2 separate regions of the Homo sapiens genome follow, and region 1 is linked to region 2. Evidence: fine-mapped expression QTL. Tissue or cell type: whole blood. Region 2 holds a variant in brackets; the other region holds the start of a gene. All regions are shown on one strand. Distances are between the middles of the regions.

What was found. PIP is the estimated chance that this variant, and not a neighbour inherited with it, causes the effect.
Region 1: CORO1C starts here. The variant in region 2 is fine-mapped to the expression of CORO1C in whole blood (INTERVAL, PIP 0.99).

The regions. Positions count from the first base shown.
Region 1 is chr12:108,727,294-108,735,381 of GRCh38, forward strand. It overlaps CORO1C (coronin 1C), which reads right to left and starts at 4,225. Exons shown (of 11, transcript NM_014325.4): 1 at 4,136-4,225. It overlaps LOC105369969 (a long non-coding RNA gene), which reads left to right and starts at 6,116. Exons shown (of 3, transcript XR_945328.4): 1 at 6,116-6,159. RefSeq lists silencers at 3,504-3,783, 3,974-4,483 and enhancers at 4,096-4,899, 7,308-7,809.
Region 2 is chr12:108,682,058-108,690,160 of GRCh38, forward strand. The region is part of intron 2 of CORO1C (coronin 1C); the gene reads right to left. Among named protein-coding and RNA genes, the nearest start is that of CORO1C, 45 kb to the right of the region's middle. The variant C/T (reference allele first, on the strand shown) is at 4,197.

The sequences.
Region 1 (8,088 bases), 45 kb after region 2:
ATGAGGAAGTTTTCATGGAGGAAAAACCTCATGACCCATGTCCCAAAGGACAAGTGGGATTCTAGAAGTAGAAAGGCGATGAAGTAATAAATTCATCACAAGATTTGAAAGCTGGGATGTTTCAGGGAGTGGCACTAGAGATGAAGACATTGGAAGGGGAATAGTGAGAAATAAAGCAGGCTGAAATCAGAGCCCACCTTACTCCACACCTCATTAAGGAGTCTGAACTTTATTTTGTGGGTAAAGGTGAGGTCACCAGAGGATTTGAACAGGTGAATGGCATGTTCCCTGATGAATCCTTTTTCATCTATAGCATACCTTAAAATATATTAATTCAAACCTTTCCCCAGTCCTCTCACATTTGGGTTTCAACTTATATAACCAAAATATTGAGGAGGGTGTGGTTTAAGGTCTAATTTCTAACTAGTAAGACCCCACTATTCATAAATTGGAAATCATCAAAATTTAAAATCTTTGTTCCTAAAAAGGGGCACCATCAAGAAAATGAAAGGACATGTCAGAATCCAAGAAAATTTTTGCAAATCATACAGCTGATAAGGCACTTGAATCTAGAATACATGAACAACTTTTATAACACCAATAAAAAGACAACCCATTAAAAAACGGGCAGAGCATTTGAATGGACATTTCTCCAAAGATTACACATACAAATGTTCACCAACCACATGAAAAGATGCTCAACATCATTAGCCATTAGGGAAACACAGATGACTAGAATCAAAAAGTCAGAGAGTAACAAGTGTTGGCAAGAATGTGGAGAATTTAGAACCTTCATATACTCTTGGTGAATACCGTAAAATGGTGCAGCTGCTTTGGAGAAGTCTGGCCATTCCTCCAATAGTTAAATATAGAGTTACCATACAACCCATCGATTACATTCCTAGGTAAATACTCAGGAGAAATGAAAACGTATGTTCACAGCATTATTCATAATAGCCAAAAAGGAAAAACACCCAAATGTTCATCAACTGATGAATGGATAAACAAAATACGGCATATCCAAACAATGGAATATTATTTGACCATTAAAAAAAAAAAATGAAGTACTATACAATACTACCACACATATAAACCTTGAAAATATGCTAAATAAGGGCAAGACACAAAAGACCACATAGTGTATGATTCCATTTACATGAAACGGGAGGACTTCTAAGGGGTATGGGGTTTCTTTTTGGGGGGGATGAAAATGTTCTAAAATTGACTGTGGTGACAGCTGCACAACTCTGTGAATATACCAAAAACCACAGAACTGTACACTTTAAACGGGTGAACTGTACAGTATGTCTCAATGAAGCTGTTATAAAACAAAAAAAGTTCCATTCTGCACTCTAGAAATACAAAGTACTCAGAAAGGAGTACAGAATCTTGTTCACTCACTTTAAAGGATCTGAACTAGGGCAAAGAAAACCCAGAGAGATTCTATTACTTAACATTCTAGGTACTAGGTCATACTGAAATATTCATGAAGAATTCTGTTTTAATACAGAAAAGGTATCTTAAGTTTAAAAAGACATACAAGTGTCAGAAAAGAGTTTTCATAATTCAAGGAGACAGTAACACAGAGAAGTCATAAATGGAAAACAAGCTTAAGAGGTTTTATCACATGGATTTGTACCTTGAAAATGCAAGTAGCTCTCAAATTTATTATTGCCCCACCCCTGGAAAAGAGGTCAAAGGTAAAACAGACCAATTAATAATATGTTTCTAAAGTACCAGTTTGTGACAAATCAAAATATGAGAAATTAAAATTTTGCCATCATAAAGAAGAGACTCGTCGACATACCCACTTATATAACTAAGAATTGATATTCATCCTTTTGAACATTCCATCTCATAGTCGTTAGAGTGACTCTCTTCCTCATGGTTGGAGTGGATCCCAGAAGTGACAGATAAGTTAAACATAAAACTTTTATCAAAAAATCCAACGGTGTTTAAAAAAATGCTATTCACTGACACCGAATCTAATCCTAAACTATATATAAATAAGTATAAATGCTGATTAGCACAATCTGCAGGCAAAGTAACAAAGGATCATGAAAAAGTCAATATTGTGTGCAGTTATGTTTCATCGGTATGTATCTATTAAAATTCATCAGGCTTTAATGTACCTTCCACAAGTAATCAAAATAAATATGGACAAGATAGGTTCTATATTTGTCAAAAATGTGTGCTCCTGACGTTTATACCAAATCTTTGTCCAATCCTCAGTACACACGACTAACCTCCACCACGAAACACTGCACTTCAAGACCTAAGGTACAACACAATTCTCAGTTTTATTTCACTTTTTTCCCTACTTATTTATGCGATTTCTCAGATCCAATGTTTACTATTATGCTTCATAGCCAAACATTATGACTGTGAAACATACCTCCAAACCAAAAATACTAGTTTCCTTAAATCATCTGAAATGTATAGAACCAAGTCCAAAATAGATTTTGCACATTTCTTCAGTTTTACAGGGAATGCAGAAAGTGAATTAATATTAAACAGGTATCTATTTGCCTTCACAACTGAACAGACGGTACAAAGCAACTGCTTATACTTAATCATGTTTCTGTCTATTCCAGCAGGCCCTGGTGTCAGGAGAACGTTCTGCCAGATAAGGACAATGAGATGCATTATTATATAGAGTGACTAAGAGCCCTACAAGTACTGTTTTAGAATGTAATCCCAGGCAGAAAGGCTGCGGTAAGAGGGCCTAATATTTTGTGGTAACTATTTCCAAAAGTAAATATATTCGCCACCCAGGACCAGTTTATTAAACGCGCACTACATTCAATTCTTTTCAAATGTCTTATAGGAGGGAAAAGCCTTTGTATCTTACCATGCCGGGGGAAATGAACAACTTGCAATTTGCTTCGCACTCTGAATCCCACGTTTGCAACATGTAGAGCAAGCACTTTAGACACCACAAAACAAGGGCAGCCTACATTACGGCCAAATATAGGATGTGTTTCTAAATCGTGATGCAGTAAAGCCTACGATTCCTTTTCCAGCGTTCAAAATCCTTTGAACACTCCCAAAAAAGGATGCCAGGGCCAGCGCCTCCCTCCAAGAGGAAGCCCCTTTCTTCTCAGCTCTCACCGCAGCCTGCCACTTCCCCCAACACATTCAAATCATTTGAGAGACGGAGAGCTGGGGAGCGTGCGCCGGTGGGGACAGGCGGGAGAGCTCGGTTTCTGCATTCCCACCCTCCACGTCTGACCTCATCCTCAGTCATTTCGGCGCAGCGGGGCCCCACCTGCACCTCGCTCCTTTTTACTGCGTCCCTCGCCAGCTGCCCCGCTATTAGGGAAACACACCTCTGAATCACCCAGTTCACTCGGACACCCTGGGCCCCCGATCCGACAGCCTTCCTGCTTCGTTCCTCCCCTCCCAACCCCCAGCCAGTCCCAGCCCTCTGCTCCCTTGGCCGGGCTCAGCCTCTTCCCAAGCCGCCCCCACCCACATTACTCCAGCTCCAGCTCTGCCCCGCCCCGCCTGACCCCCAACCGAGATCTGCAGGGCCCAGAGCTGGTCTCGCACCCAAAGCCAGGAAACCCGCAGGCCAGGCGGCCGCCCTCGCCCCTCCCGACGCAGGGCCCAGCTCGCCCCGGCCCCACGTGAGCCCGGCCCCTACCCGCCCCCACCCACTCGTTCCCTGGGGCGGCCCAAACCCAGTCCCCAGGCCTGGAGCCCCCGGGCTCTACGCCTCGCCCGAAGCAGCCCTTCCCTCCCAGCACCTCGCCCAAGCAGGCGATCCCTGACCCCTAAAAGCCTTCCCTGGGCAGCCTCGTCCCACCTCGGCCCGCGGCTCCGCACCCGGCCAGGAGCGTTCCGGACCTCGAAAGCCTCCTCCCCACAGGGACCCTGCTTCACGCTCCCCACGCCACCTGGTTCGGTCCCCAACTCCCTTTCCCCGAGCCCCCGACAGCAGCCCCCGGCCCTAACCCCTTGCAACCCAGCCCGTGAACCCGCGCCCCGCGCGCCCACCCAGCACTGTCCCCTCCACCTAGCCCTGCCCCTCGCCCCGCCGGCTCCTGTCAGGCGGCGCAGGCACATGCTCAGAGGACAGGTCCGCCCGCCCGACTCGCTCTCAGGCTGCCCCCGCCGGGCGCGAGCCGCTCACCCGGGCCGAGGTGCCTGAGGCGCCGCCGCCGAAGTCCCCGCTGCAAAGCCGGGCGAAGCCTCCAACCGCTGCCGCCTCCAGCCTGGCACTGAGCGCCGTGCGGGGGAGGGGCGCGGGCAGCCGCCACCGCCCCCGCCACCGCGCGTAGGCCCCGCCCCCGCGCCGCGCGGGACCCAACCAGGGCTGCCGGGCCGCTGTGCGCCACGCCCACTTCCGGAGGGGAAGCCCGCTTCCCACCCCACGTTCCACGCCTCGCTACGCCCCCTCTGGTCGCACCGAGGGATGCAGGCGGTGCCCAAGCGCACGCCCCGCTCTCCAGTCATCTGAGTGGTAGAGGGCCACGCCCACAGGCGCCTCCGAGCAACGCCCACTGCTCCTTAGACCCCGGAGCGGGGTTCTTAGAGCCCCGCCCACTGACCCGCTAGGCTCTGCAAGGCCACGTCCCCTGGCTCCTCAAAGATTCCCCCAGAGCCCCTCAATACAGGAACATTAGCTCCTCTGAGCCCCGCGCACTGCCTATCCGAGTCCTTAAACCAGCCTCCTGCTTCCCTAAGCCCGGCTCCCCTCCCACTGCTTCAGAACTCGCCCAGCGGCCTCACAAAGCCCCGCCCCGTCTTCCAGAAGCCCCGCCCAAGGACCGCAACCCTATTCCTAGCATCTCAAGCCCCGCCCACTACCCCATCTCAACGTTTAAACCCCAAGCCCCGCCCCGAATTCGCGAATCCACGCCTCTGGCTCCCGAGGCTCCGCCCTGGCTCCGTCACACCCTACCACCACCTCCCTTGAGGACTGCCGACGTTCCAGCCCTCCCTGAACCGTCCATTGTCACATTCCTAGTGCAGAGTGGCCGCCCCTGGGCTGGGCCACACCCACGTAACCCCAAAGAGGGCCCGTGATTGACCCCATTTCGCAGGTGAGGGAATGGAAACTTCAGGGTTCCTCCCTTCCTTTCCCTGGCCAGAGTCCCTTAATAACTCGGCGGCCCAGGCCTGAAAGTCGGAGCACGGGAATTTGAGCCTCAGCTCTGCGGCCGTCAGACTGTGTGACCTGGGACAGTTCTCTTACCTCTTTGGGCCTGAGTCCCCTAATCTTCAGCATGAAGAAGTTGTCCTGTTAATAGCTAAAGTCCCTTTCTGAAACACCAAGCTCTGAAATACCGAGATTTGAGGAAACAGAGCCTGGGGAACCGAACCGACTGTGGGGTAGGGCTATTTACTTCCCAAAGCAAGGCATCTTTGCCATTCACAGGGGGATTTTTTATTTTAAGCGTCAGCCTCAGAAACGTGTGTTATTTAAATCAAGCTTGACCTGAACTAAGACAGCTATCACAGCAAATTATTTATCCTCTCTAAGGGTCAGTTTCTTTATCTGTAAAATGGGGATAACAGCCCCTCCCTCACAGGGTTCCATGAGATCATATTAGCAGCCATGATCGTGGCATTACTTTTTGCCATTAAAAGGAATGGCAAAAACCGCGATTACTTTTGCACCAGGATAATAGTAATATACTTAGAAGAGTTCCTGGCTTGTGATAAACGCTCGACAGTACCTGTTGCTGCTACTGCTGGGACTCAACAAAATGAAAGGATGGGTTTTATTTTGCCTTCAAGCAGCCACTCCTAATAGGAGGAATTCAGCACCCTTCCTGCAGTAAGATTTGCCACTCACTTTATTTAAATGAGATAAACGTGATGAAACGCCTACTGCAGTGCCTGCCATATGGTGAGGCTCAAAAACAATTCACTTGTTTTTGTTTGTTTGAGACACAGTCTTGCTCTGTCGCTCAGGCTGGAGTGCAGTGGGGCAGTCCACGGCTCACTGCAGCATGGACCTCCCGGGCTCAAGTAATCCTCCCACCTCAGCCTCCCACGTAGCTGAGACTACAGGCACGCGCCACCATGCCCAGCTAAATTCTTAACATTTTTCTGTAGAGATGAAGTCCTGCTATGTTGCCCAGGCTGGCCTCAAACTCCTGAGCTCAAGAGATCCTCCCACCTCGGCCTCCCAAAGTGTTGGGATTACAGGTATGAGCCACTGTGCCCACAATTCAATAGTTTTGAACAATAAAAGTTGTTTTTTTAAAATCCACTAGTTAATAAATTAAACAGGGGCATTGATAGCAGTGAGTTCTGAGTGCTTTGGGGAAAATGAAGATTGGTAAAGTGCTTTGAGTTCCTTTTTTTTTGAGACGGAGTCTTGCTCTGTCGCCCAGGCTGGAGTACAGTGGCGCGATCTCAGCTCACTGCAAGCTCCGCCTCCCAGGTTCACGCCATTCTCCTGCCTCAGCCTCCCGAGTAGCTGGGACTACAGGCACCCGCCACCACGCCCGGCTTATTTTTTGTATTTTTAGTAGAGACGGGGTTTCACCATGTTAGCCAGGATGGTCTCGATCTCCTGACCTTGTAATCCACCCGCCTCGGCCTCCCAAAGTGCTGGGATTACAGGCGTGAGCCACCGCGTCCGGCCGAGTTCCAACTGGAAACCACGGAGTAAGCTAGCTTATTCTTTGGAAACAGATTATTGCTAACATTTATCCATCACTTAGACATGCTAGGCACTATCTGAGTGCTTTACATGCAGAATCTTCTGAAATTGCTCAACAATCCTATGGCCACAGAAATAATTCTTTTTTTTTTTTCTTTTTGAGACGGGGTCTCACTCTTTTGCCCAGGCTGGAGAGCAGTGGCTCCATCTGGCTCACTGCAGCCTCGAACTACCAGGCTCAAGCAATCCTTCCACCTCAGCCTTCCAAGCAGCTAAAACTGCAGGTGCACACCACTTTGCTCACTAATATTTTTACTTTTTGTACAGATGGGGTCTTGTTTTGTTGCCCAGGCTAGTCTCAAATTCCTGGCCTCCCAAAGGTGTTGAAATTACAAGCATGAGCCACCACACCCAGCCCAGAAGGGACTCCTAATCCCCACCTATAAAGGTGAGGAAACTGAAGACTCAGAGAAGTTAAATTCCTTGTCCAAGTCACATGGCTTGAACCACGTAGAACCCACATCCATCTAAATGCAGAGCCTGCACCCTTAGCCAGTTAGTCATTACACTAAACTGCCTCTGTGGCAGCATGACAGAACAGAAAAACCGTGGACTTTGGATTCTGGCCGGTTTAGGTTTAAATTCAGGCTCCACCTATTACTCATTGTGTGACGTTCAGCAAGTCACTTCCCCTCTGAGCTGAGCCCTATTCTTCTGCCTATATATCACTGGGAATCATGTAAATGCTTCAGGAAGTGGTTTTGAATATTCAGGAGTTTAGATTCAATGAATTAGGACGTGGCAAAGCACCCAACACAGTGCCCAGCACAAAATAGTTGTTTTAAAACATGTTGATGTTTAAAAATCACAGGGTTCCGGCCAGGAGTGGTGGCTCACACCTGTAATCCCAGCACTTGGGAGGCTGAGGCAGGCGGATTGTTTGAGGTCAGGAGTTCGAGACCAGCCTGGGCAATATGATGAAACCCCGTCTCTACTAAAAATACAAAAATTAGCCAGGCATGGTGGCACGCGTCTGTAATCCCAGCTACTTGGGAGGCTGAGGCAGAAGAATTGCTTGAACTCGAGTTTGGAGGTGGAGGTTGCAGTAAGCCTAGATAGCGCCACTGCACTCCAGCCTGGGCGAGAGTGAGACTCTGAAAAAAAAAATAGAAATAAATAAAAATAAAAAAATCTTGGGGTTCCATGAGATCATAGATAAATGATGAAGTTAGAAGTGATGAAATGATAATGATGAAATTAGAAGAATTCCCCCCGCCAGATGATACCGCCAAAAAGCAGCCATGGAATATGCTACGAAAGATCCCAAGGCCTTCATCTTCTGACTGCCTCTTTCAGTTCCTGGTTTGAGCCCTGCATTTGAGGAGGTGATTCTTGCACAGGAAGCACCCAATGCCAGAAGCAATGCCACCTCACTTTCACTCCATGCCTATCCCAAATGTGGTCAGCTG
Region 2 (8,103 bases):
GGGTGGAGGTGTACTACAATAGCTAGAATTTAAAAACTGGCTCAATCCAATAGAAAGAGAAAATAAAAAGAAAAAAAGGACCAAAGAAAGTATGAATGCAACTCATGAAAAGCAGAGACAAATTTTTTAAGAAAAAAAAGCATGAAAACTAGAAAGCACAAAGATGGTGGAAATAAAACCAACTATAAATCATGATTTGTAGTAAATGCAAGATTAAGCTCACTAGATAAGACAAGGCCTCTCAGATTAGATTATATCCAGCTACACATATTTTAAAAAAATAATGGCACCAAAAGGCAAATAAAGGAGGGCGGCATATTAAAAAGTATACCTGGTAGTTAATACCAGAACAAACAGACTTTAAGGTGAAATGCACTATTAGCGATTAATGTCACTATCTGACATCTAAAGAAACAATTCACTGGAAAGTTATATTGCCACTATAAACTGTAATTCATCTAACCATATAATTTCAAAATAATTAAGGCAAACGTTGACAGAACTTGAAGAAAATGACAAAGTCATAATCGTAAGAGATGTCAACAAAGATTTAAGAAATTAAACAGACAAAATTAATATGAATACAGAAGATTTTATAAAAATTAACAACTTTGATCTAATGAATATATATAACCTTGTACCTAACATTTAAAAATACACTTTTTTCAAACATACATTAAACATTAATTTGTTTTAAATTATCAATTAGGAGACCACAAAGCAAATCTCAAAAAATACCAAGGAGTCAATAGCAGGTAGAGCATCTTCTGAGTATAATGCAATACAATTAAAAATTAATAGAAAAATAAACCAAAAATCTCCAGTACATTTGAAAATATTTTAATTTACTAAATAATTGTTTTTTAAAAATCATAATGGATAACAGAATGAAAGTTAAAACTGAGCAATACACAACATATCCAAATGTGCAACATACAACTAAAACAGATCTTAGTGAAAAATGGACAGTCTTAAATGCATATAGTAGAAAAGACTGAAAATTAATGCATTGAGTTGCTACCTTGAGAAGTTAGAAAATGAACAGAGTACATCCAAAGAATGTAAAATTATTAGAAAAGATGCCAGGTACAGTGGCTCATGCCTGTAATCCCAGCATTTTGGGAGGCCAAGGCAGGCAGATCATGAGGTTAGGAGTTCGGGACCAGCCTGGCCAACATAGTGAAACCCCGTCTCTGCTAAAAATACAAAAACTTAGCCAGGCATGGTGGTGGGTGCCTGTAATTCCAGCTACTCAGGAGGCTGAGGCAGGAGAAGTGCTTGAACCTGAGAGGCAGAGGTTGCAGTGAGCTGAGATCGCACCATTGCACTCCAGTCCGGGCAACAGTGCAAGACTCTGTCTCAAAAAAAAAAAAAAAGAGGAAAAAAAGAAGTCAGTGGAAAAAAAATAAATAACAAAATCAACTAAACTGGATAGATCAGGAAAAGAGATAAGGCACAAATGAATACCAATAATTTTAAAAGGGACATAACTTACAAATAAAGTAGAAATTTACAGAGTATGAAAACACTAGGAATAACATTTGACAATATATATAAAATTGAATAATCTAGATGAAATACACAATCTCACAGAAGTAAAAGTAACATCAAAAGATTTTCAAGAATAAATAAATGTAAATTAGATCCATAACCATAAAAGATCAGTAGTATAACTCTACCCATCACCACCTCCCAATCAATCAATCAATCAGCAAATACCAAAAAACACTAGGCCCAGATGGTTTTACAGGTGAGTGTCACCAAATATTCAAGGAAGAGATCATTTCAAACAAAGCTTTCCAGAGAACAGAAAAAAGAAAAGTGCCACTGAATTCATCATATAAGGAATGTAACACCTTGATACAAAGGACAGTATAAGGGAGAAAAATTGAAGCCTATATGACTTATAAATACTGATGCAAAGCTCCTCACAAACAGCAACAAAAGCAAACCAAATTCAGCAGTGTGAGTTGTTCTTTAAAAATGTAAATGAACAGACAAGTTACAAAGTGCAAGAAGAGGTATGCAACATACATACCTAACAAAATCAACAACCAAACAGAACGATGGGCAAATTACACAAGCAGAGAACTCACAGCGAAGAAAATCTGAAGACGCAATAGATGTGTGAAAAGATACTTCAATCTCACTGATAATTAGAGAACTGCAAATTAAAACAACATGGTCACATTTTATACTCATCAAAACTGGTGAAAATGTAAAAGTATAAATATAAGTGCTGACAAGGATGTCAGGAAAGAGGAACTCATAAACTGCTTACAGAACACCTTGTTACAATTCCTTTCAAGAGCAATTTGGTAACAGGTAGAGGTGAGGAAGTCCAGCCCAGCAATGCCACTTCTAGGTGGTCTGGGTGAGAGAGATGCTCCCATATTTTGTACAAGAGGAATATTTATTGCCGCATTGTTGGAAATAGTGGCAAAAGCAGAAGCAATTTCACTGTCCTTCAGTATGGGAATACATATTTACATAAAAGTTTAAGGCACGCGAAATAAAAGTACATGTTACAGATAAACATATATGTAATAAAAATATGATACATATTTGAAGAAAAGATTACCTCTGGGGAAGGAGAAAATAAATAAGAATGGTATTCTACCTGTATCTGTTATGCTTTATTACTTTTTTCAAAAAGGGGAGATATGAAACAAATATGGCAAAATATTAACATCTGTTTAATCTTGTGAGTACATGTGTGTCCTATTATTTTGATACATCTTATTTTGAAAAAAAGAATTTAAAATATAATAAAGTTAAGAAATACACCAATGCATTATTATTAAATTTGCATTAAAATTTTTTTTTACTCCCAAGGAAAAAAGCTTTTCTACCTGAATTGTTTTGTTTTACATCAGGGTCTTTGCATTCCTAGGCTCTGCCCAGGAAACCACATTTGGCATCCTTGATGGCCAACTATAGTACTGAGCTCTGAACTTCCAAGAACACCAAATGATTTTTTCCAATCTGGGCTAAGAAGCGCTTTTATTCAAACACAAAGCAATTTTGAGGGGAATCTGGAAGTACTAGCACTAGTTGTTCTTAATTACATACTAAGAAGCTTCTTACTAAATGACTTCTTTTTTGAAGTTAAAATTAAATAACCCTGGCTAAAAGTTAATAGCTATTCACCAGTATTCTTCAGTCAAGATATCTGAGAATAATAATAAGCATTACTGCCATTCCCAGCTCAGCCCCAATAAATCCACAGCCTGAAAGTACTAGAGCTCAACATTTTCTCTGGAACCTGAATGTCACTGAAAGAGCAACTGCCAGCTATTTCTGTCCTTTCTATCAAAACAAATAATAACAATGGCTAACACTTTTTAAGTACTTAAATTACAAGCTAGGAACTGTCTGAAGACCTTGATAACTTTGTCCTCATGACAACCTTTAAGATGTGGGAATCTTATCACCCTATTTTCCAAATAAAGAAACTGAGGCACAGAGAAAGTCAAGAAGCAAAGATCTAAAATATCACTGACCAACCATACTAGATTTGGATAGGGAAAGAAAATTTCCACTATGCCATGGGTTGTAAAAAAAAGGCACACAAGTAATGTTAAAAATTATTGGCAATTGGCCATCAGAAACACAGTTAATAAAAAATGATATTCTACAAGCAGCTGCTTCCTCTGGTTGTGATGTCATCATAAATCCTTAAATAAAACAGAGAAAGTAGTATTCTACTGTAGCACAAGAGAAAAGCAATTGACTAAATATCTGACAGTGATAAAAGAACAAAAATGTGAAGACAGTATGGGGGTAGATGGCATTTTAAAGGTACACTGATTATTTGGCATGCTGGATGTTCACAAACACACAGTCAAGTATCAGCTATCCTGCTTTCAAGGGCTTACACCTCTAAGTATCTTCTTACTCATAATGAAATCAAAACAAAAGCACAACAACATATTTCACCAAATCAGCATACGTTATTAAAAATACAAAGCTGGGCACTTACAAACTGCTGAGGGCTCCAGTTCATGGAGATTAAAGGAAACCATACTAATAACGGCCTTATATGGTAAAGATGAGGAAACATCATTCTGAAAGACATTTTGCACTAGGATCTAATAAGAACACAATTCTCATTCGTCTGCACGACACATACTGATTTATCATGTAGTGAACAAACCAAAGAATCCATGTATAATTAGCTAGATTGTGAGGGGCCA[C/T]TCAGAAAGACATCCACCACATGTCATGGTGACAACACAGTTTACCTGAACCTCTAAGCAGCAAATTTAAATGAATGCAGAGGCTGAAAGGAAGATGTACAAGAATTAAAGCCAGCTTTTAGATATCTTTTTAAACTAAAAAATGAATTATTTAAGAAACTCCCACCAATCTTCTAAAGCTTAGAGATAGAAAAACTTCACTTTACTAACAGATCAGTCCACTATTTCACTAGGGATAAATCACCTCTGTTGCTTAATCTAGAATATTACTACTTTTCTGGCATGAAATTGAAGTAGTTTAGCTGAAAATGTAATAGCCATTAGACTCCTTGCTTTAAATAAATTTTGATTCATTGATTACTTACTAGTCCCAATCACATGCCATAGGATAGCTTTTGTTATACCTTTCTAGCTAAAACTCCAAATGATTGGGATTACTAGCATGTCAACCCAACAGGTGGCAAAAATGGCCAGCACCAAGTTTCCCAAAGGCTCTGCTCCAGAGCCAGTTCATAAACTCGTGGGACATTGGTGAAATAGGTCAGGACACTGGCCTACAGACATTATTATCTGAAAGATCCAGTACAGCCTGCCCAGAGCCAAGCAACATGAGCCGAAAGGAAAATTCAGCTTCCAAAGCATGTATACAGCTGGCACAAGGGAGAGGTGTAATGGCACAATTTCCACGTGGCTGGCCAGAGCTAAGGGTGATGTCTTATGAGCATGTTCCAGCCAGCAACCTTCACCGTGGCAGAAACCGTCCCAGATACAAGCACTATCATTTGCTTTGGGGAAAACACTTAAAAATCTTGAAGTAGCTACAACACAGCCGAGTTCCTGGAGACTGATACTTCAACTAAACCCACAGAGTTAGGCAACATTTCCTCCAATGGGCATTTTGCGGGGAGAAAGTGAATGAAAATCAAAATGTAAGCATCAGTAAAAATATAACTTTATCAAATTGCTATAAAAGGAAAGTTCAATAACTTAAATGACTTAGCAAAAAACATTCCTCTTTAGGCACACTAAATTCAACATAAATCTTAAGAAATCCGGCGAAACCCTGTCCCTACAAATATAAAAATTAGTCAGGTGTAGTGGTGCGCACCTGTAGTCCCAGCTACTTGGGAGGCTGAGGTGGGAGGATCACCTGAGCCCAGGAGGTCAAGGCTGCAGTGAACTATGATCGCGCCACTGCACTCCAGCCTGGGTGACAGAGTAAGACCCTGTTTCAAAAAAATAATAATAAGGCCAGGTGCAGTGGCTCACGCCTGTAATCTCAGCACTTTGGGAGGCTGAGGCGGGCGGATCACTTGAGGTCAGGAGTTCGAGACCAGCCTGGCCAACATGATGAAACTCCATCTTTACGAAAATTACAAAAATTAGCTGCGCTTGATGGTGTGTGCCTATAGTCCCAGCTACTCAGGAGGCTGAGGCACGAGAATCGCTTGAACCTGGGAGGCAGAGGTTTCAGTGAGCCAAGATCGCGCCAGTGTACTCCAGCCTGGGTGACAGCGAGACTCTGTCTCAATAATAATAATAACAATTTAATTAAAATTAAAAAAAGAAAAAAGAAGAAATGATATTGCTTAGCTGTAAGGGCACTTCCTATCAATCTTACTGGAAAATCACAACAGCTTCCACTTATTAACAATGTATCCCCTCTGACCCTTTTTTTTTTTTTGAGACGGAGTCTCACTCTGTCACCCAGGCTGGAGTGCAGTGGTGCAATCTCAGCTCACTGCATGCAACCTCCACCTCCCAGGTACAGGCGATTCTCCCGCCTCAGCCTCCTGAGTAGCTGGGATTACAGGCACACGCCACCACGTCCAGCTAATTTTTGTATTTTTTTTCACTATGTTGACCAGGCTGGTCTCAAACTCCTGACCTCAGGTGATCTGCCCACCTCAGCCTCCCAAAGTGCTGAGATTACAGGTGTGAGCCACCGTGCCCAGCCCAGTATATCTTATTTATCGATCTCACATCTCCTTCTAAAAAGGAATCCACATTTAAGAAGTAGACTCATCCTATATATTGAGGGCAGTACTGAGTACAATAAAAAAAACTGTTAATGTACACAAACATGTACAGAAAATTTCTGACAGACACGTCTCAATAAAGTTCTGTGCTGGGGTGTGTTTTTAAAGCAGCTAGTGGTGTATTACACATGTACCGCAGCCATGTTCACCTTCCCAAACTCTCGAAATTCAACATTGGGAATTTTGCTTCCAATATGTCCTACATATTACAAAAGATCATTCAGAATGACTGTTTCTTCATGTAAGAATGATTCCTCACATAATTATTTCTGACCCACATATTGGTTTGTGGTTGAAGACACTACCAATTGGTGTTAAAATGGATCAATCTAAGCTGGGCACGGTGGCTCACACCTGTAATCCCAGCACTTTGAGAGGCCGAGGCAGGTGGATCATCTGAGGTCAGGAGTTCAAGACCAGCCTGGCCAACACGGTGAAACTTCATCTCTACTAAAAATACAGGCCGGGCACGGTGGCTCACACTTGTAATCCCAGCACTTTGGGAAACCAAGGCAGGCAGATAGGTCAGGAGTTCGAGACCAGCCTGGCCAAAATGGTGAAATCTCGTCTCTACTAAAAATACAAAAATTAGCCCGTTGTGGTGGCACATGCCTGTAATCCCGGCTACTCGGGAGGGCTGAGGCAGGAGAATTGCTTGAGCCTGGGAGACGGAGGTTGCAGTGAGCTGAGAGCGTACCACTACACTCCAGCCTGGGCGACAGAATGAGACTCTGTCTCAGAAAAAAAAAAAAAAAAAATTAGCCGGGCATGGTGTTGGGCACCTGTAATCCCAGCTACTTGGGAGGCTGAGGTGGGAGAATCACTTGAACCCGGAAGGCGGAGGTTGCAGTGAGCTGAGATCGCACCACTGCACTCCAGCCTGGGCAACAGAGCGAGACTCCATCTCTGAAAAAACAAAAAAAGATGGATCAATCTGATAATCACTGGTTCCTGCAAGAAAGGAAATGTAACATTATGTTAAAGTCGCACAACGCTTTACCCAGCAGGCCTACTCTTTCTCATAACTAATGTATGTTTTCACAAAGTAATAAATTCCCATGGTGATAAAAAGTGACACATTCATTCGAGTGATAAGTCAAATCAAATATTCCCCTTTAAGAAGCTCAAGGTATCCCACACACAATTTCTTTCAAGTTTGCATTCTGGAGTGTATCATATAAACCCACACCTTCCTAGGGTGCTGGATTCAGACTGCTTTCTACACGGTTTCCCTTATCTAATCCAACTCAGGCAGCTGTCTCACTTCCAGTACTTTTCCATCTCCTGATCTGCAGTCCTCTATGCCTATTATCCAGACTGGTTACACCACCCGAAGATGTAAGGGCCTAAGAGCCCCCACCCCATCCTGGGGAAGGCAAACAAAGATACTTTACATGACCTGACTCAAAGAACAGTTAAAAGATTTCCACATTGTTCAAACCCCTACCTAATATTCATCTAAGTTTTCATTTTAGGAAAAAATGAGTATCAAAATCACTTTATGTGCCCAAATTTCAATCATAACTTATTTTTGGCTTTGGGTGATACATACTGAGAATTCTTCAACTCAGCAAGGAGAATGTTAAGTCACACATGTGCTCAGAAGTAGAGGAAAAGTTTTCAGCCCAAGCATAAGGGCTCCATTCACACTGTGCAGAGTTCAAAGGAGTCAAAAGCGTATCTATTGAAGTGGGTTTTCCATTTTTTTCAACTTCCTTTTTCTTATGACAGTATTATTTATGTGGATACATGTTTTGTTTGAATTTCTTAAGCCCCTGCTGCTCCACGGGGAGGAGCTAGAGTGATTGTGGTCATGGGACAAGGGGACAGCGGCATGGAAAACAGAGACTCAGCAGCAGACCAAAAAG